Homo sapiens: one gene and its partner. The protein of the gene in region 2 purifies or fractionates together with the protein of the main gene of each other region. This does not show direct contact. Each region holds a gene or a part of one and is shown on either strand. Other genes may lie near its edges. The genes, in order: KCNIP1 and LOXL1.

What was found.
Region 1: the proteins of LOXL1 (region 2) and KCNIP1 purify together in Homo sapiens (affinity purification with mass spectrometry; one large-scale study listed by BioGRID and IntAct). This does not show direct contact.

What each region holds. Positions count from the first base shown.
Region 1 is NC_000005.10:170,716,844-170,720,659, reverse strand, and holds part of KCNIP1 (A-type potassium channel modulatory protein KCNIP1), read right to left. Parts: intron 1,903-3,816; coding exon 1,778-1,902; intron 340-1,777; coding exon 270-339; intron 1-269. UniProt on the Homo sapiens protein: Regulatory subunit of Kv4/D (Shal)-type voltage-gated rapidly inactivating A-type potassium channels. Regulates channel density, inactivation kinetics and rate of recovery from inactivation in a calcium-dependent and isoform-specific manner.
Region 2 is NC_000015.10:73,946,961-73,950,776, reverse strand, and holds part of LOXL1 (lysyl oxidase homolog 1 preproprotein), read right to left. Parts: intron 3,711-3,816; coding exon 3,554-3,710; intron 2,971-3,553; coding exon 2,875-2,970; intron 1,319-2,874; coding exon 1,203-1,318; intron 1-1,202. UniProt on the Homo sapiens protein: Catalyzes the oxidative deamination of lysine and hydroxylysine residues in collagen and elastin, resulting in the formation of covalent cross-linkages, and the stabilization of collagen and elastin fibers.

The DNA of each region.
Region 1 (3,816 bases), on a different chromosome or scaffold from region 2:
TTATAATACCTGCTTTCTAGAGCTGTTCTGAGACGTTGTGATGTTGCATTATCAGCCCTTCTTCCCCTTCCAGGGTGGGTTCATTTTCAGAGTTCTTTCCTGCTAAAGCTTTGGAGACTCCCACCTCTCACGATGAGGGAGGTGTCCTGCCCTGAGTTTGTCTCTTCCTCGAGAAGGAAGCAAATGGCAAGGAAGAGAGGACTTGGAGGAAGGGAAGGCTGCTTACCAGAGAGGGAGCTGGGCAAGATAGATTTCAAGGTCAGACTCACCTCCATGAGGGAAAAACTGAGCATAGATCTGCTTGAATGTGTCTTCGTTGACCACACCACTGGGGCACTCCTGTGGGAAGGGGAGAGAGTCAGCGGGAGGCATTTGAGGGCCAGCACTAGGAGAAGACTGGGCCCAGCCTTGGTGTCTGGGGTTCCTCATGATCCCCAGGGACAGGGACCTGTGCATTTCCACTTCTCCCAAGTAGTGCCATCTCAGGACTGGAGCTGCTTTGCAAAATGATGAGACATTGTCAGAGAATGGGCACTGTGAGGTGGAGAGATTTGGGGCTTTAAGATCAGAAAAACCTGGGTTTAAATCCTGGCTCAGCCAATACTAAGCTTTGTGACTTTGGCCAAGCCAGTCTCTGATCCTCAATATCCTTACCTGTAAAATGGGGGTAACAATAACTTCCCCAAGGGTATCTTATGAACCTATGTTAGGTGGTATTGAGTCCATGGTAGATGCCAAGCAGTGTAGATTTCTTCTCTTTTCTGGATGCTGTTCCCTCTGAGCCCAGTGCCTGCCTGGAAAACTTTCCCACAGGATCCTTCTCCAACTCGGCTGCCCACTGCTAATGCTGCCATCGAAGGAAAGAAGCCCTAATGGTAGGAAACTGGGCACTTGGCATGTGCAGTCAAGGCTAGTGTGGAAGGAAGAGGCATCCCAGCACCTGTCAGATAACTCCCAGGAGGGGCTGGAATCCCTGTGGGTCAGCAGTTTGGAGAACATTGAGGCTGTGGTCAGTTTGGAACTGACCCAGCTCAGCTCTACCTACAGACTGCACCTGGAGGGAGGGTGACCAGGTGCATGTCGCTGTAGCCCACCCCACTCCACACCACTCCAGGATTTGGGAATAAGATTGCACTCTGAGAGTTAAACTTAAAAAATAAATTAATATCCAGGATTGTATCTGAGAGCTCTCAAACTGGCCTGAGACTGCAGGAACACATTAATGTATTTAAAGTAACAACTAAACAAGGAACTCCCGTCCTCTGACTCCACTTTTGATTGTAACCTGGCTTCCATGTGGCTTCCAAGGAGAGCGGGTCCCAGCGAAGGGAGAGGAGTGTCTGTTTCCACTGTCAGTTCCATTTCCCAAGGTAAATTAATACACCGACATTCGGCTTACACATCAGTCTCGGTGAGCCTGGTTAGCATAAGTCAGCAGGGCCAAATCCCATTATTGTGGGGGCACCACCAGGTTGGAAGGTATGATTATGTTAAGGGCTAAGGCTTGACCCTGGGCCAGGGTGAATTCCTTGAGGATGTGCCACCCTGTGAAATTTCTGGGCAGTTGGCCGTTTACTGTCTCCTGAGGTTGCTCCATCCTCGCCTGGAGCCTTCCTTTCTAGCCAGGTGATCTCCCTCTCATGCCCCCTTTATAGAGCTGGCCTTCCTTGTACAGCCTCACATATGGGAAACGCCTTATGAGCTCCCTTGGCATTGGGGAGAGTGTAGCCTCACGTGGGAACCCCCCCCAGGCCTTCAGAGCGTGCACGGGTCTTACATTTTTGAAGCCTCGATAAAGGACCTGCAGCTCCCTCTTGGTGAAGTTGGTCTGGGCCTCGAGCTGCTCCAGTCCCTCGGGCCGATGGCAAACCATGGTCATCTCCAGCTCATCTTCAATCTTATCTGGAACCAGAGGAGATGGCATTGGAATGGTTGAGCTTGGGAGTCATTCTTGTTAGGTAACAATCTGGGCTGTCAAAAGAGTGGTGTCACGACCTGGGATCTAGGACTGTGGGCTGGGGTCACACTGCCAATGGCCTTCCTATCTTGAACCCCACTTCCCTGCCCTGTCAGCCTCTGCGTCAAACACCACACAGGGAGGGGGCTTCGGCGTTGGAGAGAAACATGTTCCCAGTGGAGGCAAAGGCAGAAGTGCTCAAAATAAATCCATATGAAAACATTTTCCTTGCTTTAAAAATAACTTCTTTGCATATTCAAATTGTTTCCCATGGAACCTTCTGAATATTCCAGAGACACAGGCAAGTAAGCAGAATGATAAACACCTCTAGACAGCAAAGGGAAACAAAATTATTTAAAGAAACAGTAAACTCTCACCATTGGGGCCAACTAGGAATGGATAGCATGATTTAGCAGAAAGTTCAAATTACGGCATGTTAAGTATTACTGATAAAAATCTGAATGTATTTACAGCGTATTGTTTTGTAATGTCTACTAGATAGCCTTAAATACTAGGAAAATATCTTAAATGGGAGCTACTTTGTACAAACCATTTGAAAGGCTCTAAAAACAGTTGTTGTAAGTAGTAGTTTAAGTATGTCTCCCTTATGGACTATAATGTAATATAAGATTGCATTAGTTATTTAGAAAGTGTCTGTCAATTAAAGCAAGGAATCTGCCCATCTTCCACTGAAGGATCACAAGGTCCAAGTCCGTGGAATTTTCAACGTTTTACCATCACAGAGGGGTAGGTGAGTGATTTCCTTTGGGCCCTGCCAGAATGTGTTCTATAAACTTACACCAATCAAGAATCAATTGCCATCTAACCTTCTCTGCCTGTTGTTGTCATGCAGATATTACCAAATCCATCTATTGAACAACTGTAAATCTGGGCTGGCAAGAATAGTGATGAGATGGGTGGCTGCTGGGAATATGCACAGACCATGTCTCATCCTGTGGCAACCCACAGCAAGCACAGGCTGAGTTGCCACATCAGGTGAGCAGGTGTATTAAATTGTGTGCATTTCTCTCATCAGTGTTGGTCTCATTGCACCAGATTTTCCCTGAAATTGTCACTTTCCCTTTTGAGACTTTGATCCCAATACAAAAGGAATCCATCAAATTAAGTTTGTATCTTGTACATATCCCCAAAGGTGATGGATGTTCGTGTGAGGCTCCCGTAACTTGGTAACAATTCCTAATTGCCATCTTTCTCATGTGCTGGGCAATACATATCACCTTATCCTGCTGGGACTAAGGCAGATGATTTGTTATAAATTAGATACTGTTTACGCCACAGAGACAAGTGGCCAATTTCCCCAGAATTCATAATTCTTACAGAGCCTTTAATTATGGTTGTGTTTGTAGCTAACAAGATAAGTAGCAATTATCTAAACGCTGAAGCATTTCTACGTAAATGAAAGGGCTTATTCTCAAAAAGAAAGAAAGAAAAGGAGAAAAATTCACATAAGTCTAATTCAGAATGCTTATATACATATTAATATTTTACATCTATTTTAACCCATTTTAACAGAGAAATTAATTGTTGGTTTGAATCTCCTAGCATTAGATCTAAAAGCATTTTTATTTTTAAAATGCACATCTGTTTATCTGTGCATATATTCACAAGAAACTTCCGAAGGGGCTGCAGAGGTTTTCACATCCCTCCTTTTGCCCCTTAGGAATTCCCTGGGTACGGCCCAGGTGGCTTGAGTGAAGAAAGGAGATGAAGCAAAAATCACATTAAAATGCAAATAAAGAAAATGGGAATATTGTATTTTTTGAGTAAATGAGGTATTCTTGAAGACATCCAGTACACTGTTAGATTTATCTTAGCCAGAAGCATGAAGGGTTTTTTGC
Region 2 (3,816 bases):
CTAAATGAGCCTGGCTCTGGTCACAGACTGAGCCCTGACCCTGGCCACACACTAAGCCCTGATCCTGGTCACACACTGAGCCCTGATCCTGGTCACACACTGAGCCCTGAGCCTGGCTACACACTGGGCCCTGACTCTGGTCACAGACTGAGCCCTGACCCTGGTCACACACTGGGCCCTGACCCTAGGTATACACTGAACCCTGATCCTGGTCACACACTGAGCCTTGATCCTGGTCACACATTGAGTCCTAACCCTTGTCACACACTGAGCCCTAACCCTTGTCACAGACTGAATCCTGACCCTGGCCATACACCACACCCTGACCATAGTCATAGGCTTAATCTCTCATACCTGCCATCCATTAATAAGTACACACTTTTAGGGAAAGATACCTCTCTGGGCCTTAAGATCTCTACCACCTTTCTCCCAGTTGATGAACTAAAGCTGAAAGCTCTAGGACTAATTTTTTTTTTTTTTTTTAATGGAAAAGGGTTGCTTCGATCTGGAGTGTGGTGGGGTTTCCTTGTGAGCTTGTAAGCAAGGGGTCCCTCTGCAAACTACTTCACATGGGGAATCAGGAGAAAGACTGAGGACCCTACCCAGCAGCATGTGCCAAAATCCCAAGCCCAGATTTTAGGCACTTCTTCTACAATGGGGGCCTAGGGACTGAAGATGGCTCCTTTGAACCAGAATCACTTCTAATCTGTGACTGTTTAATCCAGTCCACTTGAAAAGGACACTAATGATCACAGCTGCTGTTCACTGTGTGCCACTGTGAACATGCAGACATCAGGCCTGTAGATCCTCATTGCCAGCCTATGTGGAAATACCTATTTTATAGTTGAGGAAAGTAGCTCAGGGAAGTAACCCAATGTCACATAGCGAGGAAGCTGTGGAACTGGGACTGCAGAGCTCATGGCCTTGCATCAAATGACTCTGCCTTCTGCTGGTTTTCACTTGGGACATCTCAGGGAGCCACAGGATGCAGCCCCAGATCAACACCCTACGGCCTGAGCCCCACCGTAAACACTCAGCTTGGGGTTGGCACGGACAAGGCTCTTTTTGATGGGCCCTGCTGCAGCTGCGTTCGGCCATCAAGGTGACCTAAAGTGCAGGTATCTTAGGTATCTCAGGTGGCCTTGCCTGCTCCCCAGGCAGGAAAGGGACGGAGCCAGGAAGGGTGGTGGGCAAACTCTTACTGGACAATTTTGCAGTTTGTTGCAGAAACGTAGCGACCTGTGTAGTGAATGTTGCATCTCACCACGTTGTTGGTGAAGTCAGACTCCAAAACAATATACTTTGGGTTCACGTGCACCTGAGGAAGAAGAGAAACAGGGAGAAAGGGAGTCTAGTCAGGGGGGCTGCACCTCAACTGCTCACCAGAGAAGGTGGTAAAGAGGCAGACAGACAGACAGAGAGGTGACAGAGAGAGGGAGAACAGAGACACACTGCTAGAGAGACACAGAGGGGAAAGAAGAGGCAGCTGGTAATCCAAGAAAACATCATCTAATCCCCCTTATCAGAAGATTGGATGTTTCCCTAGAGCTAGAGCCTATGCCAGGTGGGCCCCGCATGGGGCATTTGGGGTCAGAGAGGTTGGATCCTGCCCGAGGGAATGCAGTAATGAGGAGCTGAGCCAGGATTCAACACCTGGTCTCCCCAAATCCAAGGCTCAAAGTCATTCCCTATGCATCCCTGTCTAGGTGACTGATCGAGGGCCTGTCTGATCCCCTGCTCTGGAGCCCCACGTGCCCAACATTCACTGAGATGATGGCCCAAGTATGATCTGTGCTTTTTGTCTGAAAAGGAGCTGTTGGGATACAACACTTTTAAATGTTGGATTAACTAGGGTAGGGCCAGCTTTATTTGCAGAACATCTAAGAACAGATGCAGGGATGCAACTTTCAAATCCTGGTACACTCCCAAAGGGCAGGGACTGTGAACTGCATTGCTTATGTGGTTTGTGTGTCTAGTGCCTAGAACTCAGAGGGGACTTCCTACATGTTGATTGAGTGGATGAATGAGGAAAAGAAAAAATATACTGGACAACCCCAGGCCCTGGAGGAGCAAGCTTGGAGCCTGCTGAAGAGCACTCAGGAGGGAACTGCAGAGAACCGCTGCCGGATGCATCTCTCCACCTGCTGACTTTCTGCAGGGAAGGCCTCCGCCTGCAAACCTGGCTTCACTGCTCTGCCTTTACTGAGCTGCTTTTCTGCTTCTGAGTGGGTCCAGATGAACTGGTGGAATGATCCCTACTCATTTTATACCTGTGTGGAGGAGGCTGAGACATGGCTTCCCCAGGTGGGCCCATGACAACCTGGCCTACACGGATGTACCAAGTCTGGATGTGTGTTGTTAATATGCTTTTCTACTTTTCCCTCAACCAAGGGAAGAGGTGATGGAGTGAGTGTCCATTAGAGCAGGAGGGGTTCAGGCTAAAAGGGTCTTAGTCACAGGAGCCCTTGGCTTTGCAGGGGTCCCTATAAGGAGCTGAGGGCCTCTCATCTGTCTCCCAAATGATACAAAGTCTGCCCTGTCCGAAGACAGGAAGATAGACCACATGGCTCTCCAAGTCTTTCTTGCTCTCCCTGGTCCTCTGTCACTTAGGGAGACAGTATCACCACTGCCTCTGGCATTACCACAGCTGGGGCAAAGGTTCCCTGGGTTCTTTATGGAAAGAGAGGCTATGTCAGCCTGAGACCTAAATCTTCGGCTGGGAAGCCTAAACCTCAAGTGATGCCTCAGATGCTGCCTCTGCTCGGCAGCTGGGGAGAAGGGAACAGGCCCAGAGGCTGAAGCTTCTTTCAGGAACGGGGGGACATTGGACATGAACATCAGGTTGGAGGGAAAGCCCCAGACCCAGAGGCCCACCTTGAGGATGTAGTTCCCAGGCTGCACGTCGGTTATGTCGATCCACTGGCAGTCGATGTCCGCATTGTAGGTGTCATAGCAGCCTGGGCTCAGGCCCTGGGAAAGGGACAAGAGGAGCGGCTGTGATGCTGCTTGTTTCCCAGAGCCACCCCACGCCCACCTTCAGGAGTTTCTGGCCCACCTTCCCCTGGGTTTCTCCCCTGACCCTGGCCCAGGGCAACTGCTCAGGGTGGGTCCACACCTTCCTAAAGCCACTGGCTAGATGGACCAGAGGAAAGACAGATATCTAATAGCCAGGTGGGAGGGACGAGATGGATGGCAGAATGGATAAAAAGAGACAGGACAGATGGACAGTTTGTGGATATTTAGGGTGGCTGATGGAAAGAGGGATATGGGTGGGTGAACAGGCCAATAGGACGTGTTGCTCTCCAGACTGTTGCGATGTTTCCTTCTCTCCACGAGCAGATCACCTGGAATAACATGGGAAAGGGGCTGGGGCAGGGAGGGAACAGTCCCTGCAGGGCAGTGTGGCAGCCTGAGGACTGGTGAGAAGACCTTCACTGTGAGCAGAGCTGAGTGGCCAGAAGCCTTGGCACTTGCCGGGCCTCAGCGGGCCTCGCTCTTTGCCTCCCCAACTCCTTATCCTCCCATGCCCCAAACCCCATCTCTCCAGCCCAACCTGGGTATGAGAGGTGCATGCATAGCGCTTGAGGTTGCCGAAGTCACAGGTGCTGTCCTCCAGGCAGAAACTGGCCTTGTGGCCCTCGGCCACCTTCTTGCCTGTGGCTGCATCCAGTAGGTCGTAGTGGCTGAACTCGTCCATGCTGTGGTAATGCCTAGGGGCAGAGGAGAGAAGGAGAAAGAAGAGGGCCTAGTCTTCCCTGGGCCTCTCATCCTGTCCCCATCCTGAGATGGGCTCAGGTGACCCTGCTGTGGCACAGC